Homo sapiens: one gene and its partners. The protein of the gene in region 2 interacts with the protein of the main gene of each other region in a pairwise test. Each region holds a gene or a part of one and is shown on either strand. Other genes may lie near its edges.

Region 1 (4,240 bases), on a different chromosome or scaffold from region 2:
TGGTTTTTCAACCTTTGCCATCCTCCCTCCCTTCCCCTGTAGTAGAGACTCTAGTGTCTATTATTGAGTGAATATTTTAGATTCAAAATAACCTTAACTCCGTTCCTAATAGTAACAAAAACTTTAAAATACCTAGAAAAGGAGACAGCGTGGTATTGATGCAAGGATAGGTATATATATCAATGGAAGAGAATCGAGAGTTCACAAATAAACTCTTACAATTATAGCCAATGATTTTCAACATAGGTGTCCAAACAATTCAATGGAAGAAAGGAGAGTCTCTTTTTTTCACATTCAGAATTTTTATTTTAAAACAAAGAATCGGAGCAACATTAACAACAGAAAATCCATATGGAAATATTCACAATCTGCTCAGTGAGAAATGGGAAAACAACTTTCCTGCCTTACTGCCAACCTACTGTTTGAGGAGCCAGAAGTTGACGTGAGGTTGGAAGGTCACCTTTTCCAGCTAAATCCCACTGAATAGGTGTGTGCATTTTTATTCAAAGTCTCCGCAACCAGAGGGAACAGAACTGAGAACAAAAATACTGTTATTGGCAAGGGTTTGGCTAAAGGGTCTGGCTAAAGGGTCTGAGATGTGCAAGCACCAAGAAGGGATAGGGAGATTGAGCAACACATGAAAAGAGGGGCTGTAGGAACAAGCACCGAGAAAGTAAGTCAACTATAACCTACTTCCACCCAGAGCAAAGTGACTGTGCACATAAATCCACACTCTCAAGTGTGGGCTACACTGCACGCTGACTCATACGATCTCAAACGTGGTTTATTGGAAAGATTCTAGTCCCCTAAGGGCACTCAGCGAAGGACCACAGTGACATGGTAACAGATGCACACAAGCATACTGTGACCCTAAAGCAACAACACACTTTAGATAATAATCGTTCAGAAAAAAATCCTCAAAAGGAGAATCTTTCAACAAATCGTAGTGGGATAATTGGATATCCACATGCCAAAAACAATAAAAAAAAAAAAAAATTTAGGTCCTTACCTAGCACCATATATAAAAATCAACTGAAAACAGATCACAAATCTAAATTGAAGAACTAATACTATAAAAATTCCTAGAAGAAAATATAAAAAAATTTTCAGGACCTTGGGGTTAGGCAAAGTATTCTTAGATACAACACCAAAAGCATGACATACAAAAGAAACAAGAAATCAGACTTCATAAAAATTAAAGACTTTTGTTCTTCAAAGGATATCAATAAGAAAATGAAATGACAGCCAGGTGCAGTGGCTCACGCCTGTAATCCTAGCACTTTGGGAGGCCGAGGCGGGTGGATTGTCTGAGCTCAGGAGTTCGAGACCAGCCTGGGCAACATGGTGAAACCCCATCTCTACTAAAATACAAAAAATTAGCTGGACATGGTGGTGTGCACCTGTAATCCCAGCTACTCGGGAAGCTGAGGCAGGAAAATTGCTAGAACCTGAGAGGTGGAGGTTGCAGTGAGCCGAGATCATGCCATTGCACTCCAGCCAGGGTGACAGAGCGAGACTCTGTCTCCAAAAAAAACAGAAAAAAAAAAATGAAATGACAAGCCATAAACTAGAAGAAAATACTTGTGTGGTAGTCAGAATAACACCCCCCCCACCAAATGTTCATGTCTTAATTCCTAGAATCTGTGAATGTATAACCTCACATGGTAAAGAGATGTATAGGTGAGAGTAAGATTAAAGACCTTGGCTGGGCACAGTAGCCCACGCCTGTAATTCCAGTACTCTGGGAGGCCGAGGTGGGCAGATTGCTTTGAGCTCAGGAGGTTGAGACCAACCTGGGCAACGTGGTGAAACTCTGTCTCTACCAAAAATACAAAAAATTAGCCGGGCATGGTGGCGCACCCCTGTGGTCCCAGCTACTCTGGAGGCTGAAGTGGGAGAATCGTTTGAGCCTGAGAGGTTGCAGTGAGTGAGCCAAGGTCGTGCCACTGCACTGCAGCCTGGGTGACAGAGTGAGACCCCATTTCAAAAAAAAAAAAAAATTAGACATTGAGATGGGGATATTACCCTGTGTTATCTGATTGAGTGCAATCTAATCATATGAGTCCTTAAAAGCAGAGAATCTTTCCTGACTGTGGTGAGGGGGATTCAACAAGGAAGAAGGGTTAGAGAAATGCAACATGCAAAGGACTCGACCTGTTGGCACTGATGTAGCTTTGAATATGAGGAAAGGAGACCAAGAACTAAAGAATGCAGTGTTCTCTAGAAGCTGGGATTGACCTTTAAGGTTTACAAGGTCGCAAGTTTGCAAGCAAGAACATGGGGACTCTGATCCCACAATGCAAAGTACTGAGTTCTGCCAACAACCCAAATAAGCAGGAAACAGTTTCTCCCCTAGAGCCTCCAGAAAAGAGTGCACCAGCTGACACCTGGATTTTAGCCCAGGGAGACCTCTACAATACTTCTAGTCTACACAACTGTAAGAAAATAATTTCGGATGATTTAAACTGCTAAGCTTGTGGTAATTTTTTAGCACAGCAATAGAAAATATAATTGGCACATCAAATATCAAATAAAGAACTTGTTTCCAGAATATGTAACAAACTCTTATGACTCAATAATTAGGTAAACAATGTAATTTCTTAAACGGGCAAAAACTTGAGCAGTTATTTCATCAAGGAGCATATGTGAATGGCTAATATGCACACAAAAAGATGCTCGACATCATTAGTCATTAAGGAAATGCAAATTAAAACCGCAACAAATGTGGTAGACAGACTCTAAGTAATGGGCTGTCATTTCTAGATTAGGTTACAAAAAGACTCTGGCTTCAGTCTTGCTCATACTTTCTTGCCCTCTCAAATTGGTCACTCTGATGGAAGCCAGCTGCCCTGTTGTGAGCCACCCTATGGTGAAGCCCACGTGGCAAAGAACTGAGGGAGGCTTTCAGCCCACAGTCAGTGAGGAACTGAGGCCCTCAGTACAACAGCCCATACGGAACTGAATCCTACCAACAACCGCTTGAGTGAGTTTGAAAGCAGATTCTCCCCCTGACCCCTAATCAACCTGAGATGACTACAGCCACAGACAACACCTTGATTGTAGCTTTGTTTGAAATCTGAAAGCCAGAGGACCTAGGACACTTGGATTCTGGACCCACAGAAATTGTGGAATAAATGTTTGATTTTAAGCCACTAAGTTTTGGGGTCATTTGTTATGCAGTTAGACTTACTAGAATGACTATAATAAAAAGCCATCACTACTGAATGTTGGTGATGATGTAGAGAAACCAGAAGCCTCATACGTTGCTTCTGAGAGTGTAAAACAGCACATTGCTTTGGAAAACAGTTTAGTTGTTTCTTAAAAAGATAAACATAAACTGATTGTTCAACCCAGCAATTTCACTCCCAGGAATCTACACAAGAGAAATGAAAGCATATGCCATAAAGAAAACTTGTCTACAAATATTCATGGCAGCATTATTTATAATAGCAAAATCTGGAAACAATCCAAACATCCATCAGCTGTTGAATGACTAAAGAAATTTGATAGAGCCATGCAATAGAATATTATTCAGCAATAAAAAGGATCAAACTGTTGATACATGCTACAATACAGATACAGATGAGCCTCAGAAACATTATGCTAACTAAAAGAAGCCAGATGCAAAACATTACATATTGTATGATGCCATTTAGATCCAAGGTCCAAAAAATGCAAATCTATAGAGACAGAAAGATCAGTGGTTGCCTAGGGCTGGGGATGTGAGTAGGAGTTAGTGTTAATGGGCATGAAGAAACTTTTTGTGGGAGTGGACAAGTCTTAAAATTGATTTATGGGGATGGCTGCACAATCTATAAGGCAAATCACGCCTCATTAAAACTGTTAAAGTGTATCTAGAAATGAATTTATCAAGAAAGGTACAAGACCTTTCAGAAGATAACTATACCATTTTATTGAAGAACATAAAATAAGACCTTAATAAAAACAGAAAAGCACCATGCTTCTGGATATAAATATTTAATAGCATAAAAATATATTTTCCATATGTATTATATATGAAATTTTAATAAGAATCCTTATGGTACTATTTTAAAAAATAACTTTACAGAATGATTCCAAAGTTTTCATAAAATAATAAATTCATAACAACTTACAGTTACCAAAACTTCAGCTATACCAGAAGTTGTTTTCTATAATGTACTGGCATCTCTTAAAAAATAAAACCATTTTATCAAAAATGTACATCTTAGTTATTTAGACAGAAAGCCTACCAGGGCTT
Region 2 (4,240 bases):
CCCCGGCCCCTGGAAAGCTTAAGGCCCAGCAGGCATTTCTGGGGTTGGAAGCCAAGGAGACAAGCTCTGAGCGAAACTGCACCACTCTGCTGAGGGGCTCCTTCTCCTCCTCCTCTGACTGGCTACAGATCTGCGGTGGGCCAAGAGTATCCAGGGAGAAACCTGTCCCTGGCAGGGCTGGAGCAGGGACACTCCAGGCCCAGCTGAGGCTTCCTGCTCTGCATGGCAGGGGACATCTCTGACCTGGTCAGGACCCTGGAGGTGGGACAGCTGGTGCTAAGGGAATGTCAGCGCATCAGGGTTGGGGAGAAGCAGTGGGTGGTCCAGGAAACCCCTGAAACAGCTGGCCCTGGGGTCCCCTTTCAAGTGTTTCCAGTTGTGGCAAGGGGTCAAGGAGACCTTGCATTGCAAATCTCTTAGAAAAAACAAACTTAACCAAAAAAAAAAAAAAAGCCAACTGATCCAGAATGGCTTTCAGAAGCCTGGTCACCAGTCTGAGGGTGAGGCGCAGGGTCAGGAAGCCAGGGGCTGGGGGAGCTGGGGGATCCCTGGGGTAGTGGGGACATTTGGCTTTGAACTCAGAGCTGCGCCTTTGGGCTGGCGCGAGGTGGCCAAGGGCTCCTGGGAGGCAGGACAGGTGGGCTGCCTCCGCTCAGCAGGGAACATGCTGCGTGCTTCCGGATCAGGAGGCCGCGTGCTGTGGTGGCAGGCCGCTAAAGGGCGCTCGCTCTCTGGAAGCTGCACCGCCCAGGCCTGAGGGACCCCACGGCTTCCACCCTGGGGGAGGCTGCAGGCCGGAGAAGGGTCACTTGCTGCTGTGCGTCTTGACTTTGGTGGCGTTGATGTCAGCCTTGGTCTTCTGGATCCTGGAGAAGATCTCTTTGAAGAGCGCCTTGTACTCGGGCTGGCTCTGTTCCAGCCGCTTGTCCACGGCCTCCACGTGCTGGCTCAGGCTCTTCTCTCCTGCCTTGACCTCACCCTGGCCCTCCTCACCCCCGCGCAGGTCCCTCCACGAGCTGTCCCGGGAGATGGGGCGCGAGGTCTGCACGCCGGCGTGCCGCACTCCGGCCCCGTGCTGCCGGCACTTGCTCAGCAGCTCCTCGTACTTCTCCAGCAGCGCGTGGTACTGCTCGTCCACCTCCCGCAGGATGGACATGCCCCGCTTGCGCACGCTGTTGGCGTGCAGTGTGAGGTTGCCCGCGTGCCGGCTGGCTGGGTCTTTGGCCACGATGGCGTTGAGCGCAGTGTCGCTGCAGCTCTTGCGCACCACGTGGCCTGGAGAGGCTGCCGGTGAGGAGACCCCGTCCTGGGCGCCCAAGTCGTCCCCGCGGCCGGGCTGGGGATCGTCGGCCTCAGGGGCCTGCGTGAGGGGTGCGAGCAGGGCCTCGGCCAGGTGGTCGTCCGGACCCAGTAGGTAGGTCTTGGCCTGCTTCATCTGCTGCAGCTCCAGCAGCTCGGCCTCCAGCTCCTGCACACGCAGGCGACAGGCCTCCATCTCGCACAGCTGGCGCTCCAGCTCCGAGTACTCCTGCAGCACCGCGGTGTACTCGCGCTCCGCCCGCTCCTTGCGCTGCCGCTCCTGGCTCACCTGGGAGCGCAGCGCCCCCACCAGGGTCTGCAGCCGCTCGTTCTCCTGCTCCAGGGGCCGCGGGCCCAGCTCCAGGGAGGAACTGTGTAGGCGGAAAGCATCCTTGCACCTGGCGGGTAGTGAGAGTCGCAGCGGGGTGGGGGCGGAGGAGAGGGCAGTGGTCACGGGCACGGCCAAGGCCGAGCAGCCCAGCCAGGGCGCTTACATCTCTCTTGTTCTCTGGGCTGAAATTGTTTGCCCCTCTCCGTTGGCTCTCCACCCTCCTCCACCCTTCTCCCCCTGCTCTCTGCCCCCGGAGGCTGACCACTACGGACCGCCTCTGTCAGGTTGCCTGGTTCTCTCCTGAGCTTGGCCCATGAGAGGCACTGGCTAGAGGTCCGAGGGGGGAGCAGAGGCCGTGGGGTGTGTCTTCTTTGGGCTCTCCATGGTTAATGGTGACCAGGCAGCCTTCTCCATACCTTCCAGGTGCCGGTAACCTCCCTTCCCCCTTGCGCTTTGAGGCCTAGGGCTGGTGGCAGCTCCTCTCTGCTGCAACCCTGGGGCACTATAGTGTCCCTGTGGTTTCCCTACCCCCTGCCCACACCTCTTCTTCATTTAACTTCTCCATTACTCTGTGTAAGAGACTGTTTCCTGCCAGGACCCTTATTGAAACACCCACTACATATGACACATGTATTTTTCCATTATTAAGTGGTTGTCTAGTGTTAGATTTAATGGGAACTGAAAAGCACAGTGGGTTACCCCTCCTGGGTTAGCATGCTGGCTGAGCCTCTTACTAAACAGGTGACCTTGGATAAGACACACAACCTCTGGGCTTCAGTTTTATCATCTGGAGAGTAGGCATAATAAAACACCCCCAACAGTGTTGCAATAAGAATTATATCAGCATAGTGGCAGCACACAGCCAGGGCTCAGTAAACGCCAGCTGCTGTGACTGTCATTAGCAACAGGACCAGTCTCTCTGATGGCCTGGATGATGCACCAACTGCACCCTGCTGCCTGCTGCCTCTCCTTCCTCCCATGGCTGGCAATCCCAGAGACACCAAGCAGTGCTCTCACCTACCGGGGGCTGGTGCACAGCTCCTTGAGGCAGGGGAAGGTGTGGATGGTACGCCTGCGTTCCCGCTTCTCCCGGAGCACTCGCAGCTGTTCCAGGCCTCTCAGTTGCTCCACCTGGGCCTGCAGCTCCTCCACCTGAGCCTGGAGGCGCTCAATGGTCTCCGTCAGCCTGGGGGCGGGGTGGTGGACACACAGGGACTTTAAGGGGATGGGGCCAGTTTGCCTCACGGCAGCCCTGGCTCCCTGAAGATGGAGGGACGTTGGGTAGGAGGCAGACAGGTACCCTTGAGCCGCTGTCTGGTCCTGAGGTAGGATGGGGAATTCTATGCATGCCCAAGGACCCGCCCTTCTTTTGTACCTCTCAGGCGAGCTGATCGCTTCTCCTCTGTGCCACCTCAGTTCCTTGTCACTCCTCTATCACTTATTGTCCTGCACTGCCATAAAATATTTACATGCCTGCCTTCTCTTCCAGGCTGTGAGGTATTAGAGGGCAGGACAATGTCTTTGTTTCCCCATCGTTGCATCCCCAGTGTCTAAAGAAGAGCCTGGTGCATAGTTGGTGCTTAAAGCAAGGTTGCGGCCTGAATGTTAAACCACACAAAATCGACAAGGACAAGCTCACTCCCATCCCCGGTTCCTAGGGAGACGTGCACAAGTCACACCCATCAGTCCATGGGCCCCTGTGTACACTCAGCCCTGGGGCTCTCCCTCGCCCGCCCCCCAGCCCTCAGCCGGGCCCTCACCCATGGATCTTCTGCTGGGCAGCCTTACTCTCCAGCACCAGCCTGTGGTTGGTCAGCTCCAGGTCCCGGGCTGTCAGGTCCAGCTGCTCATAGACTTTGGCGTGCTGCTCGTTCACGTGCCGCAGCGTGTCCAGCTGCTTGGTTAGGTACTGGGGGTGGAAGGACATTGAGTAACTTTTTAGAATTGGGCAGGGGCAAATGTCTCTGCCTAGACCCTCCTACTTCTTTTTTTGTCTTTTTTCTTTTCTTTTCTTTTGATACAGAGTCTCACTGTGTTGCCCAGGCTGAAGTGCAGTGGCATGATTTCGGCTTACTGCAACCTCTGCCTCCTGGGTTCAAGTGATTTTCATGCTTCAGCCTCCTGAGTAGCTGGAACTATAGGTGCCTGCCACCATGCCTGGCTAATTTTGGTATTTTTAGTAGAGACAGGGTTTCACTATATTGGCCAGGTTGGTCTTGAACTCCTGACCTCAAGTGATCTGCCTACCTCTGCCTCCCAAAGGGCTGGGATTATAGGCATGCACCACCACGCCAGCCTCTTTTTTTTTTAAATTAATTAATTTATTTTTTTTGAGACGGAGTCTTGCTCTCTCGCCCAGGCTGGAGTGCAGTGGCGCGACATCGGCTCACTGCAAGCTCCACCTCTTGGGTTCACGCCAACCATTCTCCTGCCTCAGCCTCCTGAGTAGCTGGGACTACTGGTGCCCACCACCATGCCTGGCTAATTTTTTGCATTTTTAGTAGAGATGGGGTTTCACCGTGTTAGCCAGGATGGTCTCGATCTCCTGACCTCGTGATCTGCCCGCCTTGGCCTCTCAAAGTGCTAGGATTACAGGTGTGAGCCACTGTG
Region 3 (4,240 bases), on a different chromosome or scaffold from region 2:
GCCCGGGGCCACGGGCAGGGCATGTGTCTATACCTGCTGGCTCAGTTCCACCTGATCCCCTCTCTAGCGTGGGTTGGGGATTCTCCCTGTGCAGTGACCACCTGCCCAAGAGGTACTCACGTCCACTATCAGGAAGCCTGCAGCCACTATGTGTCGCCGGGCCAGAACAAAGCGACCCAGCAAGTCCTTGCTTCGGCTGTTGAAGTTGGGGAACTCCCACCGCAAGAACGCTAGCCTGGAAGGAAGAAGAGGTGGCTGACATGCTTCCACTCTCCCAGCCCCTCGGAGGGGAAAGATGGAAAGCAAAGAATATGCAGTCCAACAGCCATGGTGCCCCCATGGCCAACAGGTCCCTGGCCACCTACCTCTTAGACCCTGGAGGTGGTGACTGGCTCCCAGTTGGCTGGGCAAGGTGAGGTGCCACAAAGTCCCTTACGGGCAGAAACTCGCCGTCACTGTCCAGCAGCACCTCAGCATCTGGGGAAGGGGTGTGGGATGAGAACATGTTGGGGGACATCCCTCAGAAACCCCCCCACAGGAAAGATGAACAAAGATGGGACTGTGGGGAGCCCAGGCTGACACCCTGCAGCTCCCTAGGTCAGTACTTGCTGCAGACGGGGTGGGTTAGAAGAGTCCCGTTAGACTCAGGCAATGCCAGGCCCTGTGCCAACCAGGGGGAGCCCTCACCCAGCACCCAGCCATACTGCGTGGCCACCTCGAGGCTGCCCTTGTCGGCGCTCCCCAGCAGCCCCTTCAGCGTCTCCTGCAGCTCCTTTTGCAGGGGGGTCACCTTCCTGTCAAGGGCTGAGGGCCCAGGGGCCACAGCCGAGGCAGGCAGAAGGGGACCCGAGTACTCGGGGTACTCCAGCAGGGCAGTGGCGTTGATGTGGAGCAGCTTCTGGAAGGTGTTCTGATCCTTCTGAGACTTGCCCCCTAGGAGACAAGGAGAAAGAAGAGGGAGGTGGGCCTACGGCCAGAGATGGGGAGACCCTGATGAGAGGGCAGTGCACCCCTACACCCAGTCCCAGCCCAGTTTTCTGGGTCAGGAGGCAGCAGAGTTACGGTCTGCTGGCCACCTACAGGGAGAGGATGGAGAGCGAGGGGGAGGGAGAGCCCTGGCCTCCATCTGCCCCAAATTCTCACCTGGCACTAGGCAGACAAGACCAGGCAGTTTCCCAGTTCCAGTAGTACTAGGGGCAGGGGGCTCACCTAGAAATTGGATGTGAAATTCAGGGTGGAGGACGGCTTGCAGCTCTGCTTCCCGTGCCTGCTGCAGCACACACAGGGCCCACACCAGGTCCACCTGCAGGGCTGGCTCCAGGCCTGGCAGCTCTGACCCCAGCTTCTCATGTACCTGGGCAAGGATAGAGTGTGGTGGAGAAAGCAGGCTCTCCTTAGGGGCTGCAAATAGCCATGGGTGAGACACAATCCATGATGTGGTCTTGGCCTGGTTGGGATGAGGCCAGAGGAGGCTACTAGGTAACAAGAGGCAGAACCCTGGCCCTTGGTGAGGCCTGGAGCAATCCTGGGCTTGAAGGTACCAGGAATCTTCCTCATGCCCCAAGACCACTCTGAACAGCAGAAGAGTGCTGCTGAATGCTGGCATTTGATTAGGTTTACTACAACCAACCTACTGGCAGGGAACAAGATCCCTTCTCCCATAATGTCTCCAAGTGAGCACCTGGGACAAGGAAGGAGGAATCTCTGGTCCTCTGAGAGATGAGAGCATCCAAGAGGTGAAGCAGCACTCCCCAGCCCCTGGCTAATTGTTCTCAGGACTGTGCCAGACAAACCCCTGATGGAATCCCAGGGAGCCTGGGATCACACCTGGCCTGCTGGCCTCTGTGGCTGTCCTAAGGTCTTCATAAAGAAGGCTCCCCCTCCTGCCCTGAGCTGGTGCACATAGCACGAAGGCCCACTGGAGCTTCTGAGCATCAACAGGGCATTAAAAGGAGCACCAGAGGCAGGACCCCCCAGCGCTGCCTGGCAGGGCAGTCAACCAGACAGCAGGATTTCATGTGTTCTCAGTAATCCCTAGGATGCCTGGCTCCAATCAGTTCCCCCTGCCCTCCCATGCCACACATAGTGGCCCCTCCCGCCTCCACCTAGCCCGAGCTGATCTTGGGAGGACGGTTCATGAGCCATTAGCTGAAGGGGAGGATAAAGGTCGAGCAGTGGGAGCCCAGAGGCCCTACCAGGCTGAAGAACTGATCCTCTTGGTCTGGATGGAAGTTCAGACGCGCAAAAGCCAGAAGTACGCTGCACAGGTGGGGCAGGGTGATGTCCTGCGCTCTGTTCAGGACGTGCTGGGTGGGTCAGAAATAGCAGAGGGACAGAATAAGCTCTCTGCCCAGCACGCTGTCCTCCTGCCTGGCTCTGAGTCTGAGGAGAGCCTGCATGGCCAGGGGCAATGGCAGGACCCTCCATCCAGGGCCCATGAGCTGTGTCGGGAACAGAGAAGGACTTACACAGGCCCAGACACTCCTTCGCCTGGCAGCAACTACCCACAGAGGCTGGGGACACCTAGAAGCTGCTTCTTTCTGATAAGGGATTTAGAAATATTCTCCAACCAGTAAACTTAGTTTAGACTGGTCACACATAAACGTAACTGCAGGTGTCATCTTTCTGTACAGTTCCACTTTGCGAGGGGGATCAGTGATTCAGTAGACAGTTCTCAGTGGATTCTCAGTCTCATCAGCCATGCTGCTACCTGCTACAGCTACCCCAAAATGGATGGAAGCACTTATAATGGTCAGTGAAAGAACAGAGGAAACAGTTCTCAAACACTTTTTTGAGAACTGAATAGCAGCCCTTTCAAAATAAGCCAAAATGCAAGAAATATGTATTTGCCCCCACAAGTGAGCATTTTCAGACTGGCTTTACTTTCCCGACTAAGGCAATGGTTCCCAGCAGATGGCCAGGAAGCCAGCTTCTCTGAGTTGGGGCCAGGCCCTGGCTCACCTGGGCAAAGGCCTCAAACAGGGGCAGGCTGAGCCACTTGAGTAAGGCGAAGGACTTGGCACAGTGGGCCACCTCACCAGAAGTCAGGCTGGGCATGAGGGATAGCAGGTCGGTGGCCAGGCGCTGGGACACCTGGGTCTGGTGAAAGCTGAGTTTGCCTTCAGGACAGAGCAGATCACAGGGTTTAGCTGGAGAGAGTCAGCAATCACCCAGCAGCTCCACCCCACCTCAGCCTCGAGGTCTAGATATTTGATGTCTGTAACCAAATTTATCCCTGAGCCTGGGACACAGGAACAGGGCCCATGAGTCACAGTGTTTCTGTGGCAGCCTTCTGGGCCAGTGCCTACCATGCATAGGACAGGTACTGAATTTGACACGGCTGCAGGCATCTGCAGGGCCAGCGCTCCCCTCTCTCCACCGTTCTGTCCAAAGGGCTCACCATAGGCATAGGCCACGTCCAAGAGCACATCTTTCGTCAGAGAGAAGGGCTTCTGCACCAGGTGGTAGGAGATGGCCCGCAGCAAGGGCACGGACCGCCGGCTCTGAGCTGCCAGCATCACCAGCACCTTCCGCAGCTCATTGGGGCCAAAGTGCTCCACCAACTCCAGGCACTGTCAACCACAGCCGCGCAGAGGTCAGCTCAATGGCCTGGGGTGGCAGAGATGAGCTGGGGGCAGGGGTCCCATGGTCCCATCCAGTGCAGCCCCTGTGACAGCCCCTGTCAGACTGGGCCTGAGCTGACTAAACACAGGACCACTGTGCAGGGCCTGCCTCCTCATCCACCCCAGGGAACCCCTGGACCTGGAGCACTGTCCACAGCCAAACTTATCCCCAGGTCCCAGGGTAGGTGACCCAGGGCCCATGAGCTGTGGAGCTTGCTGTGGCAGCCATCTGGGCCAGCCCCCGCTATGACAGAAACGGGCACTGAATTTGACTTGACTGCAGGGCTACAGCCGATAGGGGTTAGCACATCTCCAGGAGAGTTCTAGCCAGAAGCCAGGCCTGGGCAGTAGCTGTGTTACTTCAGGAGCTGCCTGCCATGCCCCCCTCTCAAGATCGTGCTGTGATGGGGTTTGGGGGAAAGATAAAGGTGCAATCAGGGAAGCGCCTGTGTTGGGAGGAGCAAGTGGTGCTTGATGAATGCAGCCACAGGGCAACCACCTGTTGCAGCTCCGAGCCCTCTGGTCCTGCCCCATGTGATGCCTGAGGCTCCAGACAGAAGCTCCCAGGGCTCTGATCCCAGTGCACACAACGCACCCCTCTGCAGACAACTGTCACC
Region 4 (3,660 bases), on a different chromosome or scaffold from region 2:
TTGTAGACACGGGGTTTCACCATGTTGGCCAGGCTGGTCGCAAACTCGTGAACTCAGGTGATCCACCCACCTCGGCGTCCCAAAGTGCTGGGATTACAGGTGTGAGCCACTGTGCCCAGCCTTTTTTTTTTTTTTTTTGAGACAGAGTCTCACTCTGTTGTCGAGGCTGGAGTGAAGTCACCCAATCTCGGCTCACTGCAACCTCTGCCTCCCAGGTTCAAGCAATTCTCCTGCCTCAGCCTCCTGATTAGCTGGATCTACAGGCGTGTGCCGCCATGCCTGGCTTTTTTTTTTTTTTTTTTTTGAGACAGAGTCTCGCTCTGTTGCCCAGGCTGGAGCGCAATGGTGTGATCTTGGCTCACCGCAACCTCCGCCTCCTGGGTTCAAGCGATTCTCCTGCCTCAGCCTCCTTAGTAGCTGGGATTACAGGTACACACCACCACATCCAGCTAATTTTTTGTATTTTTAGTAGAGACGGGGTGTCACCACGCTGGTCAGGCTGGTCTCGAACTCCTGACCTCGTGATCCGCCTGCCTTGGCCTCCCAAAGTGCTGGGATTACAGGCGTGAGCCACCGTGCCTGGCCAATTTTTTGTATTTTTAGTAGAGAAGGGGTTACACACCATATTAGCCAGGATGATCTCAATCTCCTGACCTCGTGACCTGCCTGTCTTGGCCTCCCAAAGTGCTGGAATTACGTGTGATCCACTGTGCCCGGCCCAGGCTGGCTAATTTTCGTATTTTTTGTAGACAGTTTCACTATGTTGCCCAGGCTTGCCTCGCACTCCTGACCTCGTGATCCGCCTGTCTTGGCCTCCCAAAGTGCTGGGATTACAGGTGGGAGCCACCGCACCCGGCCTCTTCAAATGTTTTCTATCATAAAGAACGTGTTAGCACTTCCAAGTACACTTAAGGTTTCGTCAGTTTCTCACTGTGATTCTGTTCTACAAGACTCATATTATGTGCCTGGTTTTGAACTATTACATCTTCCTAATAGATTGTTTCTTTTATAAAAACATAGTGACCCCATGATTCTTAAAATGCTTTTATACCTTAATGTCTGTTTTGCGCGACTAATGCAGCTCCATCAGCTTTCTTCAGTTTCATGCCTACCTTGTATATCCTTTTCTATCCCTTTGCCCTCAACTTCCCATATCCTTGTTTTAGGTGTATCTTTTCTAAAGAACATATGGCTGGTCCAAAAAGAAATTCAGTCTGTTAGAATTTGTCTTTACACTTGGTTTGTTGAGTACAGTCATGTTTATTGAAATTGCTGACATATTTGGATATGCTGTCAAATCCTAGTGCTTCCAGTTCCTGGCAGTGTGACTTTGGTCAGTTACATTCTCTAAGCCACTTCCTCCTCTATAAAACAGGGATGGTTGTGTGAGGACTGAGATGTATATAAATTATTTGGTAGACTGGGCAGCACACACAGGCTCTGAGTAGATTCCCTTTTTTCTCCCTCATCTCCTCCCCTTTTAGACAGACATGGACAGATATGTCTCAACGACCAAATGGGTGAAGATGCTCAGAGCATCAAGGGGATGGAGATCCAGTTCTTGTGACAGAGACTGAGCAAGTAGGAGGCAAAGAGAGGTGCTGATGATTGCTGTGAGTCAGAGACAGTGTGCAGGGCCAGGCTTTGGGTCAGGCACTACACAAGGTGGGTCCTGTCCCTGGTTTACATATGAGGAGGTCATGGAGGTTCAGGAAAGTCACTTATCTTAGGTCCCAAAAGTAGCCACAGGGAGGAGTCAGGCTCTGCAGCCTGAATTCAGGCCCATGCCTTTTCTGTTCCCTCCAGCATGCTGGAAGCCTGTGCAATTTCACTAGGAATGTGCATCTCTCCTCTCTGAGTTTTCCCCTAAGCCTGTCATCCCTCTCAGTCTCTCAGCCTCTGGCACACGATATGTGGCCCTCTCTGCCTGTGTCTGGGACTCCCTCAGAGATACTTCCACAAAGTCTCTGTCTCCCTGAGTCTTACCTTCATGTTATGAACGTTTCTCATCAGTCTCTGTGCCTCTATTTACTCTTGACATAGAGGGAATGGGCCCGAAATACAGGGAGATACATATGGAGAGATGGTGACGGTGACTAGTACACAATACGCCAGGTCAAATGGTTCACATATGATGAGACCATCACAGAAACAGAGGCATGAAGAATGATACACTAACAGTAATGAACAGAAGCTGCAGCATCCAGTGATAGACAGGGACCCTAAAAATGGGACAGGGATGCAGCATTGTGAGAGAAGACCAGAGAACACATGGACAGAATGCTGGCAAAGACTAAGTCCATGACACCAGGGGATCTGGGGCCCTAGAAAATGACTCAATACAGTCACATTTTATTGAGGCCACTGCATGCCAGGCTTATTTGGGTGCTGGCCCCCAGGAAAATCAGATTATTCTTGCTCTCCAGGGTTCAAGCTGCTGGGGAGACATCCATGTAAACATACATAAGGACAATGTGGGGCAGAGACAGCACGGTGACTGCCTCCTGGGGGCACCAGTCACATTCATGTAAGAGACATCAGTCAGGGCCTACTGAGTCTTGTGTGTTGTAGATACTGAGAGTAAGACATGGCCCCTGCTCTCAGGAGTTTATGGTATCCTTGGAAAAGGCAGCTCTACAAGGAGCAAATAAGTAAAACAAGGTGGCAGGAGTTGTAAGAGAGGTATCTAGGAGGTGCTCTGGAAGCAGAGAGGGCAAGCTGAAGTCTGCTCCCGGAGAGCAGGGAGGTTTCTTTGGGCAACATTTGAAACACCTTAGATGAAAAAGGAGGGCCAGGTGCGGTGGCTCACGCCTGTAATCCCAGCACTTTGGGAGGCCGAGGCGGGTGGATCACGAGGTCAGGAGATCGAGACCATCCTGGCTAACATGGTGAAACTCCATCTCTACTAAAAATACAAAAAAAAAAAAAAACTAGCTGGGCGTGGTGGCAGGCGCCTGTAGTCCCAGCTACTTGGGAGGCTGAGGCAGGAGAATGGCATGAACCCGGGAGGCAGAGCTTGCAGTGAGCCGAGATCGCGCCACTGCACTCCAGCCTGGGCGACAGAGCGAGACTCCATCTCAAAAAAAAAAAAAGAAAAGAAAAGAAAAAGAAAAAGAAGAGGAGGGTTCCAGGCACAGGTACAAAGGCACATAAGTGGGAAAATGTATGGCTCCTTCAGGGACCACAGTAGTTCCGTGTGGCTGGTGTATGGAAGGTGGAGCCATGGTATGAGATGAGGCCATTTTCACTGCACGCACAGAAAAATGACAGTATTCATACATGCATATGAGGATAACTGGAGAGGTTGCTCGGGGCCCAGAGCAGCCTGCATCTCAGCATACTTATACCCTGTTCAGGAAGCTGTGCTGTAGAAGATGGGTTGGAGAGCTTTCCACCTTGGAGTGACACAGTCAGATCTAAGTAATATCAAGAGTCCCCTGGAGAGTGATACAGGGGCAGAGAATAAAGGCAGGAAGTGGTCAGGAAGGAGACCCCGGCTATAATCCAGGCAAGAGGCAATGAGGGCTCACATAAGGTAGCAGTGGTGGAAAAGGAGGTGAATTACAGATAAGCTTTAGGTTAAAACAATAGCGCTGGTGACTGGTGGGATGTGGAAGGAAAAGGAGAGACAGGAACATGCTGGGCAGGTGTCAAGCAGCA
Region 5 (4,240 bases), on a different chromosome or scaffold from region 2:
AATGTTGAATTTATTAAAGTTTATTCATTTAAAAACCAATTTTTAAGCCATTAAGCATAACTTTTTACTTCATCCATACATCTAGAAATATTTGTATAAAAGTGAGAACATTTGTATTTTTTCTTTAACTTATGTTCAGTTAAGCTTCAAATTTTACAGATTAAATTTTTTAAACATTTTGGCCGGGCGCAGTGGCTCAAGCCTGTAATCCTAGCACTTTGGGAGGCGGAGGCGGGTGAATCACCTGATATCAGGAGTTCGAGACCAGCCTGGCCAACATGGTGAAACCCTGTCTCTACTAAAAATTCAAAAATTAGCCAGGCATGGTGGTGCGTGCCTATAGTCCCAGCTACTTGGGAAGCTGAAGCAGGAGAATCGCTTGAACCCGGGAGACAGAGGTTGCAGTGAGCCAAGATTGCACCACTGCACTCCAGCCTGGGCAATAGAGCAAGACTCTGTCTAAAAAAATAAATTAATTAAAAATTTTAAACATTTAATTCTACCTGCTTATCAAATTTCTTTATATAAAACATAATTACAAATTTGATATCTTTAGTTCTTTAAAACATTCCAAACACCTAACTGGGCAGACTTACAAATCTTGTAAATAAAATCTTGATAAACACAGCTGTTATAAATCTAATGAATTGGACTTATAAATTTAGTAAATCAAATTACCCTTCTTATCTCAGAATACAGTCACCAGCTAAGGTGGCAGGCTTATGTAGCATTTCAGCTATCTTTAAAAAAAAAAAAAGAGTGAAAGAAGAGTATTGATTTAAAAACTATGGCTATGCCTGTGTTCTAGTTGGTCACAAATTAGTTTTTGTTTTAGTTTTTCATTATTTCTGTACTTAATTTAATTTCTCTAGAGCTACAGTAATCCTACATGTTTTTTAAAAAAAGGAAAAATACCATTTCAAATAAGCCAAGGTTATACGCCCGGATTATTTGCTGATTAATCTTTTTACCCAAAGAAATTTGAACTTGACTATACCAGATGGACCCTAATTCTCTTTTCTTAGGCACTTGCCAAGACCCCAGGTCTTACTTTACTCAGTGATGAATCACTTGCATGAAAACCTTCTAGGCTACAGTTGCACCTGGTTTTGTAATGGTTTTGACATGAGACATTATTCAGATAGAAGGAATTGTTTCCGTTATTGGCTCTAATCAGTTTAGTAGTTCCCATTGATCTTCATGCCCAACATTCTAAATCTCCCAGTAAGGAGGGTAGGAGTGAAAGTCAGGGAGACAGTGCAGCTATGAACTAAAGTTTTCATGGGCTCTGTTTCTGTTGGAGAGATGCCCAGCTGGGGTATGGGAGGCCCACGTGTCAGTGATGGGGAGTTAAAGCAAAAGAGGAGGTGAAAAGAATCAAGGGAGGAGACGTTGGATGGGAGGAGAATAAAGTGGGATGTAGGTGATAAAGTAACAGTAGAGAACACAAAGAGAAGCAAGCAGTCAGCAAAAGAAAAACAGAAGAGGCATGAAACTGTATATGGAAAAATTCAAAATATTTCACACAAAAAATTAAAAAACAGGAGAGGAGAGAGATGAAGAGTCAGTAGGGGGTCGAGATAGCAGGAAAAAATAAGCAGCAGCAGAAGAAAAGATATAAAAGCAAGTGAACTACAGAGAGAAAAACAGAACATTTTTAAAAAGAGGGAGCTAGCAGAACAGTAGGAATAGAAATAACCAGAAAAAGTTTAGCATTTCAGATTTTTTTTTTTTTTTTGAGATGAGTTTCGCTCTGCTGCCCAGGCTGGAGTGCAGTGGCACGATTTCGGCTAACTGCAACCTCTGCCTCCTGGGTTCAATTGATTCTTACGCCTCAGCCTCCAGAGCAGTTGGGATTACAGGTGCCTGCCACAACACCCACCTATTTTTTTTGTATTTTTCCTAGAGACGGGGTTTCACCATGTTGGCCAGGCTGGTCTCGAACTCCTGACCTCAGGTGATCCACCCGTTTCAGCCTCCCAAAGTGGTGGGATTACATGAGCCACTGCACCCGGCTTTTTTTTTTTTTTTTCTTTGAGATAGAGTCTTGCTTTGTCTGGCCCAGGCTGGAGTGCAAGTGCAGTGGTGCAGTCTCAGCTCAGTACAGCCTCCACCTCCCAAGTTCAAGTGATTATCCTGTCTCAGCCTCCCAAGTAGCTGGGACTACAGGCATGCACCACCACACCTGGCTAATTTTGTATTTTTAGTAGAGACGGGGTTTCACCATGTTGGCCAGGCCGTTCTCAAACTCCTGACCTCAGGTGATCTGCCTGCCTCAGCCTCCCGAAGTGCTGGGGTTACAGGCATCAGCCACTGTGCCTGGCCAGCATTTCAGATATTTATTGTTTGTCATATCTGGGGCTCTACTGTATCCAGCACTTGGGCATTTCTTTCCTCTGACACTGCTCATCTTGTCTGAATGATTGTGATAGAATTTCAGATTACCATAGTCTTAACCAGGCAATCAAACCAGGCTGTTTTCCTGCCCCCAATATTGCTTTGTACCACCCCAACATCCTTGTCCCACCCACTCATATCATTGGTTGGATGGTCATCCTATAGAATATTTCCCTCTCATGGGTGCTAGTCTCTCCCCTGCGCAGTAGCAGCAGTTATAACCTGAAGCTCACAGCACCACTGCTTATTTCTGAGCTGACATCACCAGTGGGAATACCTCCCTCCTCTACAGGCTTGCCACCCATTCCTGTTACCCTTTATTTCACTTGCCTTATTTCTTGAGCTTGGTTTAATTGACAAACACTTCTTAAGGGTTCACTGTGCCAAAACTGGATTACATGGGTGCACATTTCAAGGTTAAGGAAAGTGAGTGTGCAGAGGAGACAAACATAAAGAACTATGATGTTACTGATAGCAGGACCCCTTTTTGACACCATTAGGTTCTGAAGCAATGTAAAGCATCCAGAGACTAATCAGTGTCATAAAGCTTCAGGGTGTTTTGAAGTTCTCATGATATTTTCTGGCATTGTGGAGCAGGCTATGCCATAACTCAACAAGGTCAGCTTTCCTTGACACAATGCTAAGCTGTTCCCCTGACACAAGGGTAAGAGTTTGCCATGTACAGTTTCTTTTTTTATTCTCCTAGTGTAGCTGTCTATCACCATAGCAGCTCCCCTCCCCTAAGGGTTCATCTTTCCTTCTGGCCCCTCACAACATCATCAGTCAGCCTGAAAGTTGCTGCACACATTCAGAGCACTGACTGTATTCCAGGCAATATCTGAGTAGTTGACATAGAGTAACTCCATTAATCTACTCATGGCCTTATGAGGTAGATACTATTAGTATCCCTGTTTTAGAGATTGGGAAACTGAGGCACACAGGAGTTAAGTAGCCCAAAGTCATGGAGCTAGTTAGTGTCAGAGCAGAGATTTGAAACCAGGCAGTCTAGCTCTAGAATCCATGTTCTTAACCTGTATGCTGCAGGACCTCGCAGTGTTTCATATGGTTTTGGCTGCTGTGGCTGTCTTGGCAGCCAGTGTTACCCTTTCTGTCCGTGCTTATCCTTTCTTTGATATCCAGCATCCTCAGACACAGAAACCTCAGTTGCTAGATCTTTGTTTACAGGTAGCAAATCACCCTAATTAACTGGTGGGTTGCAAGCAAATCCACACTAAGTAGCTAAGGTAAGAAGGCAAGCCTAGGGAGAGGCTTGTGTCCTTCATAACTGGTCTTTGTTGCAAGGGCAGTCATCATACAGCCAGCAGGAGCACTGTCTGGAGATTGGCCCTCCCTGGCATGAGGCAGCGGGCAGCGGGGTTAAGTGTCTAATGGAGGCAAGTGGAAGTGCTGGAAAGACCACGAGTCAGTGGGTTCTGCCATAGGTAGAGGGGAGGGCAAAGCCCCAGCTGAAGAACCTAGAGAGGAGAGGTAACATGTGATGGGATTCTCTTCTTTGATGAAGCCATTTTGTGGAGGTGCTGAAATCACATACTTCGTTTTATGACTTGATGATCCTATTCTTTTTCTAGGCCAGAGAAAGCTAACATTTGTATTTTCTGTTTCTTGGTTCAGGTGCTGAAACCAAGAACCTACAGTTACTGGTTCCAAAAACTGAGATATGTGAGGAAGCTGAAAAACCCCTCATCATATCAGAAAGAATCCAGAAAGCTGATCCTCAAGGACCTGAGTTAGGAGAAGCTTGTGAAAAGGGAAACATGTTAAAGAGGCAGAGAATAAAGAGAGAAAAGAAAGATTTCAGACAAGTGATAGTGAATGACTGTCA
Region 6 (3,319 bases), on a different chromosome or scaffold from region 2:
GGATAAATGTTTTTCCATGTTGATCTGATCCTGTGGGGGACAATTCCAAGAGTCATTCTACATGCTCCTAAAAGGTCCTTACAAGATTTAGCCAAGTTGCTCTCCATAAAATAAACTCGAAAATGCACCCTTTCTTTAGATTTTCCTCTTTGATTCTTTCATCTTCCATAGTGTCTCATACTTGCTTCCTGGGATCTTGTGCCACATAAACTGTTTGCACCCAAATCTTTGACATTAGCCTTGTTCTGGGGAGAAGAGGAGGATCCAGAGTAAGACTAATGGATATAAATGCTTGTTCAGCATGGCTCAGGTGTGTTGCTGTCAGCTTGATTAAGGTTGAGCCTTGAAGAAGCATCGGTAGGTTACCGAAGCCTCCTGGACCCAATAATTCCCACTTAAGATCATTGGTGAATGATCCTGACTCTCCTTACCAGTGGGAGGCAGGAAACCTGGCACTTAAGTCTACTAACAAAGAGCAAAGCGTCTGTCCTAGCAGTGCTTAAGCTTCACTTTTCTCTTGGTTGAAAATCCACATTCAGATACTAGACTTTAAGTAACCTTTAGTGCAAGCATACAGTTTACCTTATAAATTACATCCTAGTCTTGTTGTCTGCATTTCTAGTTTATGCATCAAATTTTCTGCTTTCCTATATCAGTAGAAATGCATGTCCTTCATTCTTAGACAATTCTCACTGCTGTTGAGACAAGTCTGCAGATGCAAACTATGTTCTTCCAGAAATGATTACTCTTAATAGACAACATACCTAATTTCAAGAGAAATGTTCTCAGATCTGTCAGATTATATGGGCCCCAAATCCAGTTACACAGTCATATTGATTTTTACTTAAATCTCCCAAATTCTTGAATGCAAAAATGTAAGCAAAATAATAATAATAAAATAATAACAATGTGAACAATATATTTGGGTACCAGATTACATACATTTATTAGATTAAAATTTCCATTTTCAACAGTTTTTGGATGAAAATCAGATAGCATATATTCGATCAATGGTAAAGATATTAGAAGTTAATATTAGGTTACTCATTAATTTCGCAGTCTGCCAGAAGTTGGTCATGCAAGAAGCTGGTGGTGGAAGAATAAAAAGATATTGGGATCTGGCAAGAATGAAAATAATGGCTGCATTCAGTAGAGACTTTGATCCCAATACTCAAAAGGATCTAGAAATTTAGCAGGTGAATTGATAGAAGCGAGATCCACAGATTGGTCTGTAACAAGAAGACTGCCAGGCTCCAGAAGCCAAGTAGTTTGGGTAGCAGAATCTGGATCCGTAACTCAGGGAAGGAAAACCACAGCCTCCATATTTCAGGAATCTGAAGCCACTGGATCCATTTCCCAGCGAGTAGCAGCACCTAGATCCATAGCCCTGGGAGCGACAGCTGCTGGACCGAAAGCCTAGAGATCCAGAGCAAGTCGTCTGACAGGGACAGCAGAGGATGGAGGTCCTGGGGCGGTAGCAGGATTTCTGGCAGCTGGCGGGCTCCCAGCAGGTCTTCTGACAGTCCCTGTAGAGAGAGGAACGCAGCTGGCAGGTGCTGGGAGAGCAGAGGGCAGTGCTGTAGACCAGGCTGCTGGGGTAGGAGCCTGGGTAGTACAGGTAGCCCCCAAAGGAGCGGGAGGAGAAGTTTCTAGAGCAGCAGTTGTAGGACATGCTGATGAGAGATGGGAGTTCAGCTGAGTGTACCTAAGAAGATTCTGAGTTTTAATGTCGCATCCTGGACAAGGGCATTTATATCCTCTCAGCAATAGGTGTGGTGCCCAACAGGGTCATCCTTTACATATTTGTGATCCCTCATTTACATATGTGTAACTGCGTAATCTTGTCTGTAATTGCATTTGAATAGTTTTCCATGTATTGTATTTATGGGTGCTATAATTTTCGTGTTATAGCACAAAGCCAATGAACTGTACTTATGTCAGAAATGCTATGACTGTTTTATATTAATGTCTAGCTCATCATGACAAGGAAAGCTCTTCCTATTTCTTTGGCACATGCTAACTGCCTCTTTTCCTGTGTATTCACATCTGGCTTTGCTAGTAGATGTTTTCCTCTTAAGAGTGGGGAATGAGATAACGTTAGTTTCTTTCTGGTGCAATTTCCACCTGGATGAGAACCTTTGTGAAAATGATCCATCTTGTCACCATTGATTGCTATACTCCAAAATTACTTTGTGGTGATTTTTTAGGGCGGTAAGAGTAAATTAATACATTAAGTACTACAGTTATAAAGTCTGTCTCATATCCAGTGAAGAAAGATCAAGAACAGGCAAAGCAAAGAGATAGAAAGAAATGGCTAGAAATTGAAAGAAACCTTGCCATTTATTTAAAGACGAGATAACAAAAAGAAGCTCGATTGAAACACAGTCACAGAGAAGATCAATTTGAGGTCATGTCTCTTCAGCCAAAGAGCCCGAATGCTTGTCTGCTGAAGGGAGGAAACAAGTGAAAGAGAAACAAAGAGAAAGCTCAGGAATTTCAGAATTTTTTTTCCTATTGCATTCCAGCTGTCATGTGTCTTGTCTCAATGTCTTTATGAGCAAAAATTTTCAAAATTAGCAAATCTTATGAACTTTGATATATTTATCATCTACTTTTGTAATTATACAGGACTTCTACCTTCTTAGAATGGCTCTAGCTTTCCATATTACTGGCTTTCAGTGTCTTTTTGCCACTTGTAGAACCAGGTACCATCCTACATTTTCCTGTGAAAATGTGAAGTTTCTTTGTTCCCCAGTCCTCTTTTCCTCTGCATGGTATATGAATGTTTCTCTCTTATTTTCTCTCTCTCTTCCTCTGACTTTCTTTCCCTCTATTTTTCTTTCTTTTTTCTGTGCTTAAGTTTGATTTTATCTTTTTTCTTTTTTTTACTTGTTATATTTTATGTTTTGTTCATGTGTTTGTTTGCCTCTGCTGAATTATAGATTCCATGTTGAAAAATAAAAATTGGACAGCTTTGTCGTATTCTTTGAGGATAGCCACTTTGTAAGTTCATTCACAAAATATTCTATGTTGAAATACAAGTAGTTAAATTATATTCAGGACCAAAGAAAGTGTACTGTCATGGTTGATGACATTTTATTTTATAATAAAATATAATAAACTTACAACAATAATGTTAGACATTTTCTCGATTAAATTTTCTCAATTAAAATGTATGGCAATATTGAAAAGTAACTTAATATAGGCCTTCCAGAAGGAAGAATGAAGAAAGAAGCAAATATGGCCAATTCAAATATCTATTCAGTGAGTTACTTTCTATTTTTCAATGGCAGTTGATTTCCCCTAACCTTGTACCTTA
Region 7 (4,240 bases), on a different chromosome or scaffold from region 2:
TGAATCCTAAATGTTATTGAGAATCTAATAGTGCAGTATGTCCACCTGAAGTCTACACACACACACACAGCATTCACCATGGAGTTGCATAGCTATGAGGAAATCTTTTACTTGAAACCAGACTAACCTGAAGCTGTATTAAAAAGTCACCTATGAGGTTTGATTTGAGGGGTATTAAGAAAGGTTTCTATCTCCTTTATTGTTACTGGTTCCTAATATGCTACTACTAGAACACAAAGTTCTTGTGTCAGTATATTTATAGCAATTGTGTTTGCATTTCTTAGACCTCAGAGATTTTTCTTTGAGGTATCTTTTTAGGGAACACCTCCTGTTAAAATGTAAGGAATTGCTATAAGGAAAAAAATCATAATACTATCTTTTTTTAGTGTGAATGAGTTTCTCAGATGTAAACTTTTCCTCGTTATCAAAGGAATCTCTGGTAGTTTGAGAGGGTTCTTTTGAGACCATGGGGGAGGAAATCTTTGTACATTAAGACTTAAAGCAGACAAGGTGCAGTGGCTCATGCCTGTCATTGCAGCACTTTGGGTGGCCGAGGTAGGAGGATCACTTGAGTCCAGGAGTTCTGACCAGCCTGGAAATATAGTGAGACCTTTTCTTTAGGAAAAATAAAAAATTAGCTGGGCATGGTGGTACATGCCTATAGTCCCAACTACTTGGGAGGCTGAGGTGGTGTAATTGCTTGAGCTCAGGAGATCGAGGCCACACTGAACTGAAATCACACCTCTGCACTCCACCCTGGGTGACAGAGTGAGACTGTGTGTCAAAAAAAAAAAAAAAAAAAAAAAGACTTAAAGCATATACACATACAGACACAGAAAAATACACATTGTCCACCCTCCTCACTCCGTTCTCACTAACCCCCACACCCCCGCCTTGCTGTTTACATGCGAAGTCTGTCATGGGTGAATACCAAAGTTGTGAAAACACAGCACACTTTTCAAGGTCACTTGCAGAGGCATCTAAGACCGTCTCTTTTCATGTTTCATTAAACCAGGAAAATAAAATTTTGTAAAATCACATATGGTTTCAAAGATTGAGAAAATGAATCTCTCTTGCATCCCTGGTATATGCCCAGGTTCACAAAGGAGGTCAGTGTAGCGTCCTTTACTTTTTACTGTCTTTTATTAAAACTTTTTTCCAGTGATGCCTTTATCATGACAAGGAAATAAACAGAAATATGTCATTTCCTCTTGTTATGATCAATACAACTATTTATGAAACACCTCCTGTTTCAGACACTATGTGAAGCACATTTATGCATATAATGCCTAACCTTCACAAAACTTCTGCAAAGTCAGCAGTGACAGTCCTGTTTTACAGATGATGAGACTTAGAGAAGTTCATTTTTTTTTTTGCTTGTTTGTTTGTTTGAGATGGAGTCTCACTCTGTCGCCCTGGTTGGAGTGCAGTGGTACAATCTTGGCTCAATGCAACCTTCGTCTCCCGGGTTCAAGCAATTCTCCTGCCTCAGCCTCCCAAGTAGCTGGGATTACAGGCATGTGCCACCACACCCAGCTAATTTTTGAATTTTTAGTAGAGGTGGGGTTTCTCCATGTTGGCCAGGCTGGTCTTGAACCCCAGACCTCAAACGATCTGCCCACCTGGGCCTCCCAAAGTGCTGGGATTACAGGCCTGAGCCACTGAAGCTGGCCATGAAACTTAGATAAGTTGAGTAATATATGCAAGGTTATACCACCAATAGATGCCCAGTTCTGTTGGATTTTACATTATTCTGCACTATCCAAAATACAACTTTTCCTCCAACAAATAACATGGCCAAACTGAAACATAACTCTTTTTCTTTCTAAACTGGTTTATGCACCTTCTTGGATTCCCCAGTCAGAGTTTTTCAGATATAATTGGGTCTCTTCTGGGCACCATGTTCACTGTGAACATAACATATATTAGTGTGATGGGGTGACCTTGGGGACTAGCAGCCAAAGGGTTCTTGCCACTAGAGTCAATGGCCCAGACTCTGTTAGACTTTGGGTTTCTCGTGTTTGCTGAATTGGTCTCCTTGTGATGACTTAAAATAATAATTTCAGTTTCTTTGCTTACATTTCTCGCTTGTAGGGTTTTGAATCTACCTCTCAGAAACCCTGTGTTAACTTTGTTAGTCAAATGATCATGAGAAAAGTATGTTAATATAAGTGGGGAAAGTTCTATCAATATCTCACGTCAAAAGTGTATTACTCCCTTAAATTGAAAACTTGGAAAAATATATTTTGCATTAAATTAGTTCCTCTTCTGACTACAGAAAGGGAAAAAGTTACTCCCACTTCCCCTAAAATCCCATCACTTCTCTTTCATCTTGCGCTGTCTTTGAAGATAAAGCCATAGACCGTCCAAAGCAATGCTGTCATGGCTGGTGCTGCCAGAGGTGCTTATCTGTGCTGCAGACCTGCTAAGCCCATGACCCTTGTGGGTTGACAGGTCACTCGTGCATCTGATCCCTGAAGGCTTGTGCTCCCTGCCTCCCCTTCTCCCGCCTTTCTGGTTAGTACTGAGCTAAGTGCTGCTTTTTCTTAGCAGTTCTTAGCCACACGGTGGTTTTGAAGGTTGTTCATTTCATTAAAAACATCATAGGCCACCCCTGCCATTCCTTGACCCCCTCTAGCTTATCACTTAGAAGTTCCTTCATTGTCATCTGGTCATTTTTCACTACGAATACACAGACCCCTGTGCTTAGTGTTTGGGGATCATCACTAAAATTGTTGTGTATTGTGCATCACAGAAACTTGTCTATTATTCTTTTTTTTTTTTTTTTTTTTTAAAGACAGAGTCTTGCTCTGTCTCCCAAGCTGCAGTGCAGTGGTGTGAGATTTCAACTCACTGCAACCTCTGTCTCCCTAGCTGCAGTGCAGTGGTGTGACATTTCAACTCACTGCAACCTCTGCCTCCCAGGTTCAAGCGATTCTCCTGCCTCAGCCTCCTGAGTGACTAGCTGGGATTATAAGCACCTGCTACCATGCCCAGCTAATTTTTGTATTTTCAGTAGAGACAGGGTTTCACCATGTTGGCCAGCCTGGTCTTGAACTCCTGACCTCAAGTGATCCACCCACCTCCGCCTCCCAAAGTGCTGGGATTACACGCATGACCCACCGTGCCCGACTTGTCTACTTGTTAGTAATCTGAAGGCTGAAGTAGAAGGGGCTGAAAAACTATCAGCATGTGAATTTAACTTAGTACTATATGAGAAGATCATTTCTGATTTCTGTAGTGGGAGAATGTGATACTTAGGGAGAGACGTATGGATCTACTCTGCTTGCTGGGGTAGCTAGAGGTCTACAGCCGCACCGTCCAGTGCAGTCACCACAAGCCACATGTGGCTCTTGAGCACAGGAAATGAGGCTAGTCTGGATTGAGGTGTGCTATACATGTAAACTACCGGATTTCAAAGACTTGGTAGAAGGAAAAGATAATGCCACATTAATAATTGTATATTCCTTATATATGGAACTGATGATATTTTGTATATCTTGGGTAAAGTAAAATACTTAATTTCACCTGTTCCTTTTGATTTTTTTTTTTTTTTGAGACAGAGTCTCTTGCTCTGTCTCCCAGGTTGGAGTACAGAGGCATGATCTCAGCTCACTGCAACCTCTGCCTCCTAAATTCTAGCGATTCTCCTTTCTCAGCCTCCCAAGTAGTTGGAGTTACAGGTGTGCGCCAGCACACCCAGCTAATTTTTGTATTATTAGTAGAGATGGGGTTTCACCATGTTGGCTAGGCTGGTCTCAAATTCCTGACCTTAGGTGATCCACCTGCCTCGGCCTTCCGAAGGGCTGGGATTACAGGTGTGAGCCAGGGCACCCGGCCTCCTTTTGATTTTTTTAATGTGGCTACTAGAAAAGTGATAGTTATGGATGTGGTACACATTTCTGCATGCTATAATGGTAGCACCAGCCAGCATTCAATACGCTTAACTGGGTATCAGACCCTGAGCATTGAGATTAAGTATATTGTCTCACTAAATAATCACAGCTAAGCCTGAAGTGTGTGTTGCTATTCACTTTTCACAGATGAGGAAAGTCAAGCTCAGGGACGTTCATTAACTTGGCCAGGGCAAACAGTAAGTGACACAGCTGGAATAGATCCTGGGTCTCATTCTCCCAAAGCCAGCACTGTAAACAAATAAACTACACGTAGAGCTTAACTGGAGCTTAATGACAGTGACTTTTGTCTGAAGCTACCTTCACTGGACCTTAATGACAGTGAC

The links.
Region 1: the proteins of CDR2L (region 2) and EHHADH interact in binary tests that used the Homo sapiens proteins (3 or more experiments, as listed by UniProt).
Region 3: the proteins of CDR2L (region 2) and TBRG4 interact in binary tests that used the Homo sapiens proteins (3 or more experiments, as listed by UniProt).
Region 4: the proteins of CDR2L (region 2) and ZSCAN22 interact in binary tests that used the Homo sapiens proteins (3 or more experiments, as listed by UniProt).
Region 5: the proteins of CDR2L (region 2) and ZNF35 interact in binary tests that used the Homo sapiens proteins (3 or more experiments, as listed by UniProt).
Region 6: the proteins of CDR2L (region 2) and KRTAP13-4 interact in binary tests that used the Homo sapiens proteins (3 or more experiments, as listed by UniProt).
Region 7: the proteins of CDR2L (region 2) and SH2D4A interact in binary tests that used the Homo sapiens proteins (3 or more experiments, as listed by UniProt).

The regions. Positions count from the first base shown.
Region 1 is NC_000003.12:185,205,303-185,209,542, forward strand, and holds part of EHHADH (peroxisomal bifunctional enzyme), read right to left. Parts: intron 1-4,240. UniProt on the Homo sapiens protein: Peroxisomal trifunctional enzyme possessing 2-enoyl-CoA hydratase, 3-hydroxyacyl-CoA dehydrogenase, and delta 3, delta 2-enoyl-CoA isomerase activities. Catalyzes two of the four reactions of the long chain fatty acids peroxisomal beta-oxidation pathway.
Region 2 is NC_000017.11:75,000,640-75,004,879, reverse strand, and holds part of CDR2L (cerebellar degeneration-related protein 2-like), read right to left. Parts: intron 3,540-4,240; coding exon 3,391-3,539; intron 2,817-3,390; coding exon 2,652-2,816; intron 1,698-2,651; coding exon 806-1,697; 3' UTR 1-805.
Region 3 is NC_000007.14:45,101,138-45,105,377, forward strand, and holds part of TBRG4 (FAST kinase domain-containing protein 4), read right to left. Parts: intron 3,906-4,240; exon of another isoform or gene 3,769-3,905; intron 3,573-3,768; coding exon 3,401-3,572; intron 3,346-3,400; exon of another isoform or gene 3,212-3,345; intron 3,120-3,211; coding exon 2,962-3,119; intron 2,307-2,961; coding exon 2,196-2,306; intron 1,355-2,195; coding exon 1,210-1,354; intron 934-1,209; coding exon 688-933; intron 478-687; coding exon 366-477; intron 236-365; coding exon 121-235; intron 1-120. UniProt on the Homo sapiens protein: Plays a role in processing of mitochondrial RNA precursors and in stabilization of a subset of mature mitochondrial RNA species, such as MT-CO1, MT-CO2, MT-CYB, MT-CO3, MT-ND3, MT-ND5 and MT-ATP8/6. May play a role in cell cycle progression.
Region 4 is NC_000019.10:58,339,913-58,343,572, reverse strand, and holds the end of ZSCAN22 (zinc finger and SCAN domain-containing protein 22), read right to left. Parts: 3' UTR 1,241-3,660; downstream 1-1,240. UniProt on the Homo sapiens protein: May be involved in transcriptional regulation.
Region 5 is NC_000003.12:44,654,672-44,658,911, forward strand, and holds part of ZNF35 (zinc finger protein 35), read left to right. Parts: intron 1-4,029; coding exon 4,030-4,240. UniProt on the Homo sapiens protein: May be involved in transcriptional regulation. Involved in cell differentiation and/or proliferation.
Region 6 is NC_000021.9:30,428,629-30,431,947, reverse strand, and holds KRTAP13-4 (keratin-associated protein 13-4), read right to left. Parts: upstream 1,729-3,319; 5' UTR 1,673-1,728; coding exon 1,190-1,672; 3' UTR 922-1,189; downstream 1-921. UniProt on the Homo sapiens protein: In the hair cortex, hair keratin intermediate filaments are embedded in an interfilamentous matrix, consisting of hair keratin-associated proteins (KRTAP), which are essential for the formation of a rigid and resistant hair shaft through their extensive disulfide bond cross-linking with abundant cysteine residues of hair keratins.
Region 7 is NC_000008.11:19,319,841-19,324,080, forward strand, and holds part of SH2D4A (SH2 domain-containing protein 4A), read left to right. Parts: intron 1-4,240. UniProt on the Homo sapiens protein: Inhibits estrogen-induced cell proliferation by competing with PLCG for binding to ESR1, blocking the effect of estrogen on PLCG and repressing estrogen-induced proliferation. May play a role in T-cell development and function.